2 linked regions of the Homo sapiens genome follow. The protein of the gene in region 2 interacts with the protein of the main gene of each other region in a biochemical or structural test. Each region holds a gene or a part of one and is shown on either strand. Other genes may lie near its edges.

Region 1 (3,752 bases), about 110 Mb from region 2:
GTTTACACAATGGCTAACTCTAAAGAGAGATATTTTAGTGCCTGGCTCTGAAGTCTTGGGACCCATTTATGCATTCACCCATTTACCTTCCTAAACTATTTCTGCTCTGCCTATGCAGCCATTCTCCAGCTATTCCAATTAAATATCAACTAACTGGCTTCTCTGTGAGTGAGACAAAGCCAGAAAAATTGACCCTTAGTTATTGGTATGTTAGTTTTGTAGCCTTCAGATAGCACTGAGCTATTAAGGTATGGGCTACAAGATCTGGAAGTAAGCCCCATCACTGCTACCTATGATCTTGAGCAAGTCACTCTACCCATGAGAAGCCACCTGTCGCTTCCCAAAAAAATGAAAACAGCACTTACTCCACGACAAGACTGGACAAATAAATATGCAATTGCATATAAAAGCTTTTGTAAACTGAAGGTACTTATTATCATGAATAGCTCTGCTTCCACAAATCCTGACCTAAGACACTGGGAATGCAGAGGCTTCTCTCTCATTTCAGAAGCAGGACAACAGAGAGAAAACAGAGATGATGACTCAGCTTCTCTCTCCTCTCAGTAATGGATGAGACTGATGAATTTCTTCAAGAAATATATTTGTAAATGAGATGTCTAAGTGGAGATTGCTTTACACTCACCCCTAAGTCTCAACCGAGGAGTTGTTAGTGAATATGATGGGCCAGTGGAGGGGTTGGGTTTTGTTTCCCCACTAAATATAACCAGAGGCTTATTCTTATATTTTTCTTTAACAATCGGAATAATTATCTATTTGCTTTCCTTTTCCTCCAAATACAAATTGGAAAAATAAAATTTTTATAAAGAGAAACTTGTTACATATTTCTAGATCCATTGAGGACTTCCTAGCTCTCCTAGAAAGTCTGGTCTAACTATCTTCTCTTTCCGCATTTTTATCTTTCAGAAAATGCAATTTCTCACAAAGCACCAAAAAATATTTCTCCCCCAGAGAATCACAATACAGTATTAGGAAGGAAAGTGTTCAGTAATCCCACCACTGGGTTTCAAGTAATTTCAAGACTTTAATAACACAAAAATTGAACTCACCTAAATTGATTTCTGAAATATCCTTCTGTTCACCAAAATCTGCATCATGTACTGTTAAAAGTGAGAAAAAAAATTATTATTAGTCTTGCCGAAGGAAAAAAGTTCAAAAACACTCTCTGTGCATTTGAACTAATTCTTACCATTTTCTTCAGGAAGATACTTAATCTGAAAAAAATAAATATACAGAAAATGGATAATGTATACTAGAATTAATATTTCTAAATATCCAAAAAGCAGGACTCGACTTACCGGTACAGCTGCTATGTGGGCAAAAAGCAAGGTAAAAAAGAGAATGCAAGTGGATCTAATCCAAGCCATTGCTGCAAGTGAGCTGATTTTAGCACACACCTTGTCATAAATACCGTTTAGACTTTACCCTGACGGTCGTATTAGAAACTTTGACCCTTCCATATGTACCGTAGTGCCAATAAAGGTTGTCAAAGATAACATCATTGACTCTTTCGAGGACAAACACTAAGTTTACCTTAAATGCTTAAGCTCCAAAGACTGGGGAAAAGTTTGAAAAATTAATACGGAAATGAGCATATAAGAACTAATAACATTCCTATAGGGCAGCCATAGCCATTCATATCATAAAACAGGATAGACGATCCCCTTAACAATAAAAATAAAAATAATTTATAAAATTATTATTATTTAATTCTAATAAAATATAAATTCAAATTTTATGGAAATGTTATAAAGCAATTATTGAAGGACATAAAAATACCTGACTCTCTCTCTATATGTACATATGTATGAAATATTAATAGATTGTTTTAATATTAATCTATAAATTCATTGTCATTCTAGTAAAAAATCTAACAGGGTTTTCAGTGGAACTTGCCAAGCTGACAAATGGTTCAATTCGCATGAAAGAGTAAACATTGAAGAATAGATAAGAAAATTCTGAAAAGGCTGAATAAAGAGAAAAGAATTGCCTCAAAAGAATATCAGGAGCTTTGGTAAAGTTACAGTAATTAGAGTGTAATAGTTCCAAAAATAAAGATAAAATGAATCTATAGACTGGAATAGGTAATATCCAAATAGATGCAAGCATATGCAGGGCTTTTATGTATAAGAGGAACCAAAAAGGCAAGAGGGAAACTTGGGTCTCTTTCATAATAATGTGGGAATAATTGCATTTCCATATGAGGAAATACATTAAATGTACACCTGATACCATTGACAAAAATAAATTCTAGATAGATTAAAAATTTAAATATGAAAATATAAACTTCAAAAAAGAAAATATAGGAACATATTTTTAACCTTTAGGTCAAGAAAGATTGCTTAAACATGAAAAAAACATAGAAATTACAGAGGAAAAGAATAATACATTTGACTGTATCAAAATTTAAACTTCTTTATGACAAAAACATAACATGATTAAAAGACAAGCCACAGGTGAGAGATGATATGTATACTGCATATAATTGAATAAGAATAAGTATTCAGGATATGTAAAGAATTTCTACAAATCAATAAAAAGAACAGGAGATTATCTAAGGAAAAAATGAACAAAAAATATGAGTAGCAAATTCACAAAAGACCCAGATGGCCAATAAATATGTAAAAAGATTTTTAGCCTCGTAAGTAATCAGAAAAATTATAGGTTCAAATAGCAGTAAAATACCACCTCAAGCTAAGATTGGCATAAATTAAGAAGACTGACAATATCAAGTGTCAACAAGAAGGTAAGAAAATAGGAAATCTAGTAGGACATCAATTTGATGCTATCTAATGAAGTTGAAATGTGCACAGTTCATAAGATAGAAACTTCACTTCTAGGTCTATATGCTAAAGGAACTCACACATATGTGCACAAAATTCCACATAGCATATTCATTGAAGTTTTTTTGTTATGGTAAAGAATGGGGAAAATGTGTTTATACTAAAAGAAAAGATAAATTATGGAATATATTCAGCCATGCACAGGTAAATGTTTAATAATCGGCTCTTTTAAAAAAAGTAAAAACAAACAAGCAAACAAACAAAACCAAGCCTTTATTTGTAGTGTTTGTTGATTGCCATGGTCAATTTCAAGCTACCAACACCATGTCACTGAATGCAGTGTTGGGAAGAGATGTACACAGTGGGCTCCATCTGCGCCAGCACAATACTAAATATATGCACACACCCACCTATTCTTGCCTGCACCAGATATAAGAATCTTTGGCATTAGAGCAATCTTCAAGGTCTAGAGCCTGCATCTCTCTACCTCAGACTTACTACTGGGCAGGTGGGCTAGTCCTGCTGTCAAAAAAGCATTTCCTGTCACAAAAGACTTTTAGAAGGTGAACAGTAGAGCTTCTTGAGCTGTAAAATAGGAGGCATGTCAACTGGGGGCCTGCTTCTGATGGGCAGAAGCGTTCTATGGCTGATTTTTGTTTTACCTAAGCCACTGATGGTGAGGTGATAAAAGGCCATCTTCCACCGTCTCTAACCATTACAAACCACTAATATTATTTTTTAAACGAAACAAAACAAAACAAAAAGCCAAATTTGCCCAACAGCCGCAATGACTTAAGTGAGCAACTACAATCTAGACCATTTAAAAATTGGGCAATAATCAAATTTTAAAACTGGCCAACATCGTAAGAATAATTGGCTTTAAGTATCAGTGTGGAAAACATATGAGACTTTTATTTCTTAAATGTGTTGTTTAATTTTTCTCAAATTCTG
Region 2 (3,752 bases):
TATTGGGAAAAGCTACTATAGTTACTCTTTGTAAATGCTAAGTGCTTGCCTAGGCCAAATAATGATCAGCTTTACATCTTTTATGTTTAAAATTTTTCTTCTTATCATTCAGCAGTCATTTGTCTGTGACCCTCAATTAAGTTGCTTTGCTGTTTCTGCTCTTAAATAAAATTGGTTCACTAAGAATTGGGTGATGAAGAGCTAAGGATAAAAAAATTCCATATGAGAACTGTTTCAACCTCTAGTTTGTAATAATCAGGTAAAAAAGATTTCCTGGAATTAAGCCACAGGAACTCTGGCTTAAGTCAGAGCTGTCAACTGGGAAACAAATTTCCAGACATTTTGAAACTTAATTCATTTAATTTTTCTGGTAACTGGATTAGAAAATATGATTAAGCATAGCAGGATATTCTTTTACTGGATCAGTCTGACTTTGAACGAAGGAAATAGATACTACAATCTTAAAGTAGAAGAAAGAGGACTGTAAAGCCATTCTGTCTTATGAAACTTAGAAACAAAATGTAAAAATAATACACATGGCAGAAAGCCTTTAAAATAAAAGGAAAAATGGCATTTTCCTCTGTTGTTTAGGAAATTTTTCATGTGGCTGCATTTTTACCTTAAACTCTGATTGAATGTGTGCTAGACTACCTTTAGTTACAAATCCACAAATAGAAGTGAAGTATTTATCAAAGTACTATATAAATGCTTTTCAACTATTTGAAGCCACCTGTCAAGTGATTGAATCAGAAATGTTCAAAACTGGTTTGAGTATGTGTGTGTGTTGGGGATGAGGGTAGAAAACTAATTCTACATTATGCAAAGACTTATAAAAGTGATGAGGAAAATCTTTAAAAAGAAAAGACAATTAAATTCCTTGAGGTATATAGCCTGACAACAATTTATTTTTTGGATCATTTGACACAGTGTATGTAAAAGTGCATTGGGAATTGTGCCATTTTATACAAATATGAAATAGCACTACTTGTACTGCTTTGTACAACAGCGTGCATATCTTACTATCTTAGAGACTTTCTGAAACACTTATCTTGGAATTAGTTTCAACAAAGACGAAATGTAATAATAGGAAGGTGAAAATTATCTCTAGAGCTTTTAAAGTTAGGATAGATTTCAAGAAAGATTAAATCTGGAACTATATGAATAGCATAAAAATTAAAAATATTAAGAGAATTGATACTTTGTAATAAAGTATAATTATACTTTTATAAGCGTAATGAACATAAGTGTTTGTTGCTTTATGCATTTGTTTCTACACATGAAGTCTTTATTTTCTGAAGGAATCCCAATGGCCCTGGCTATAACACTACAATCATTTTCTTATTTTACAATTAATTAAAGGTTAAAACATTTCACATTGAGCTTGCTACTTTGTTTGTTTAAAGAAAAGTAAATTTCCTCTTATCTTACATTTTGAAGTTGCTCACTATAAACTTATATAAATTAGGCATAATGACAATTAAGTAAGAACTTCAAGCCCTATTCATCCCATGGCCGTCATACTGTGACGTCTTTCAGAGCACTTTGTGATTGCTCAGTCCTAAGTATAAGCCCTATAAAATGATGGGCTTTGAAATGCTGGTCAGGGTAGAGTGAGAAGCACCAGCAGGCAGTAACAGCCAACCCTTAGCCATTGCTAAGGGCAGAGAACTGGTGGAGCCTTTCTCTTACTCCCAGGACTTCAGCACCTAAGACAGCTCCAAAACAAACCAGAACAGTCAGCTCCGGGGGAGCACGACTGGGCGAGGTAAGTGAAAACTTTACCTTTCCTCTTCTTTTTCCCTCCTGCCTCTGGAACTTTTCTCACAAAATAATGAATTTTTCTCTCTTGAAAAGAATTTGATAGTGCTTTGCTTTTGCAACAGCAAAAAACAAGTTTCTCAAGTCACCTGGTAAGGATAGAAATACTTCAATTTCTCTCATATGGATAGATTTTCTGAATTCTTTTGTTTGTAAGATGCTTTACCCTGCTTGCTCTTTTACTGAATACTGATTTTTACAAATAATTCATTCAAGTAAAGTTTACTTGTATGTAGATTTTTGACTGAAAATTTCAGTGGGAACATTTGCTTTTGAAATTTTCAACTTATTTTTAAAGTGCTTTTTTTTTCCTATTTCGTATGTTGGTTAAGTGAATCTAAGATGCATTTATTTTTTCCTTAAGTTTAAATTCCATAATTTTTATAGGCAGCAAGAGAAACAGACCTTACTCCTAGGCTTTTAATCTAGAAACTAGAAATGAAATGTGTAAGTTGATTAAATGCAAGAAATGCAAGCTTTGCTTTTAATATATATTTTCCTCTTATGGAAAAATTTATTTCAATGACAACATATGATTCAGTAATATTTTGAGTATTAATATTCACTACTGAGTTAAGAAGTTCAAATCCAGGTGTAAGGAAATAAGTTTCCGTAATATCTACAATTGAAAGAGGAAAAAGTAATGTATATACAAAATCTTTTTTAAAATTATATGTATATATACACATTATATTTATACATTTGCACACACACGAGCAGAATAATTATTAAATAGATGATACTCTAGTCTTATATTAGTCAGATACTGAAATTTTAAAGCAGAAGAAAATCAATGTCTTGAAGCTGTTTCCTTCGTCAAAAAATACACTAAGCTTGAGTGGTACATCCCTGTTATGAAAAGATTGTCCCCAGGGTTATTTCCAGCACTATAGAAGTATGGCATTCAATAGATACTGGGGCCAACCATGTGCCCAGACAGCAGGTGAAAAGGATTCTAATTTTTATTCAAGCACCTGTCACTGAGAGAAATACTGATTTTTGAATGTATCATCTTGCAATTTAACTCTTTCTACAAGATGAAAATTACTCTTTACAAACTCTGCAAGAGCCATTGAAAATTACTGCTAGACAATCAGAATTACCTTGCTGGTGACATCTTTGGCTGGAAGAACTGAGGTGATTCTCTCTCTTTAGAGGCACAGAAATGGACACCAGAAATAAGGCCCAGCTCCTTGTGCTCCTGACTCTTCTCAGTGTGCTCTTCTCACAGACTTCGGCATGGCCTCTTTACAGGGCACCTTCTGCTCTCAGGTAAGTTCCCTTTCAATTCAAACATCTGAACATTCCTTCCTCATCTAAATGGGAATTTCCTATACATTTTGTTGGACAACTAAATAGTATAAATTATGTATTATGTATTTAAATTTTTCCTTGATGTGTTGAGTGAGAGGTGTTTGTCAACATCAGGTCATTCTGAGTCCTGGAATTCACTTTCAGGGCATGAGAGACACTGTCAGTTATTAGTTTTATGGGCTGAGTGGATCACATTCCCAAACATGGTGAAAGGAGGCTTTCACTTTCTTTTTATTCAAAACCATCTTTAGATAAATAATAAGCTTTTATCCATTGTTATCTCAAGTCAGTTCAATTTCTGGTGGAAAAAAGCTGTTTAGTTGCCAACCACATTTGAGTTTATTTTCAAGATTAATCAGTAAATAATCATAAGACTAGTAGTTGATTAGTGAAACATGTATAAAATCATGTTGCACAGAAATCTATCTAGGCAGAGTCAATTTGCCAATATTAAATATGGGGTAATTGATCTATTGAGATACACTCCCCCAATAGGAAAATTTTGATATACTTTGTTTGGACCATAAATCCTTAGTTTTATTGTTCTATATGTTATATTATATATTCCAAATCCATAAAGTATAACACAACTCTTATTTAAAACTTTATTAATGTATGCT

What was found. The genes of interacting proteins can lie anywhere in the genome.
Region 1: of the proteins of VIP (region 2) and MEP1A, one has a biochemical effect on the other in vitro, tested with the Homo sapiens proteins (one study listed by BioGRID).

Annotation. Positions count from the first base shown.
Region 1 is NC_000006.12:46,791,032-46,794,783, reverse strand, and holds the start of MEP1A (meprin A subunit alpha precursor), read right to left. Parts: upstream 1,396-3,752; 5' UTR 1,386-1,395; coding exon 1,317-1,385; coding exon of another isoform or gene 1,233-1,316; coding exon 1,208-1,232; intron 1,119-1,207; coding exon 1,068-1,118; intron 1-1,067.
Region 2 is NC_000006.12:152,749,195-152,752,946, forward strand, and holds the start of VIP (VIP peptides isoform 1 preproprotein), read left to right. Parts: upstream 1-1,602; 5' UTR 1,603-1,765; intron 1,766-2,973; 5' UTR 2,974-2,983; coding exon 2,984-3,090; intron 3,091-3,752. UniProt on the Homo sapiens protein: PHM-27 and PHV-42 are two bioactive forms from proteolysis of the same precursor protein, that cause vasodilation. PHM-27 is a potent agonist of the calcitonin receptor CALCR, with similar efficacy as calcitonin.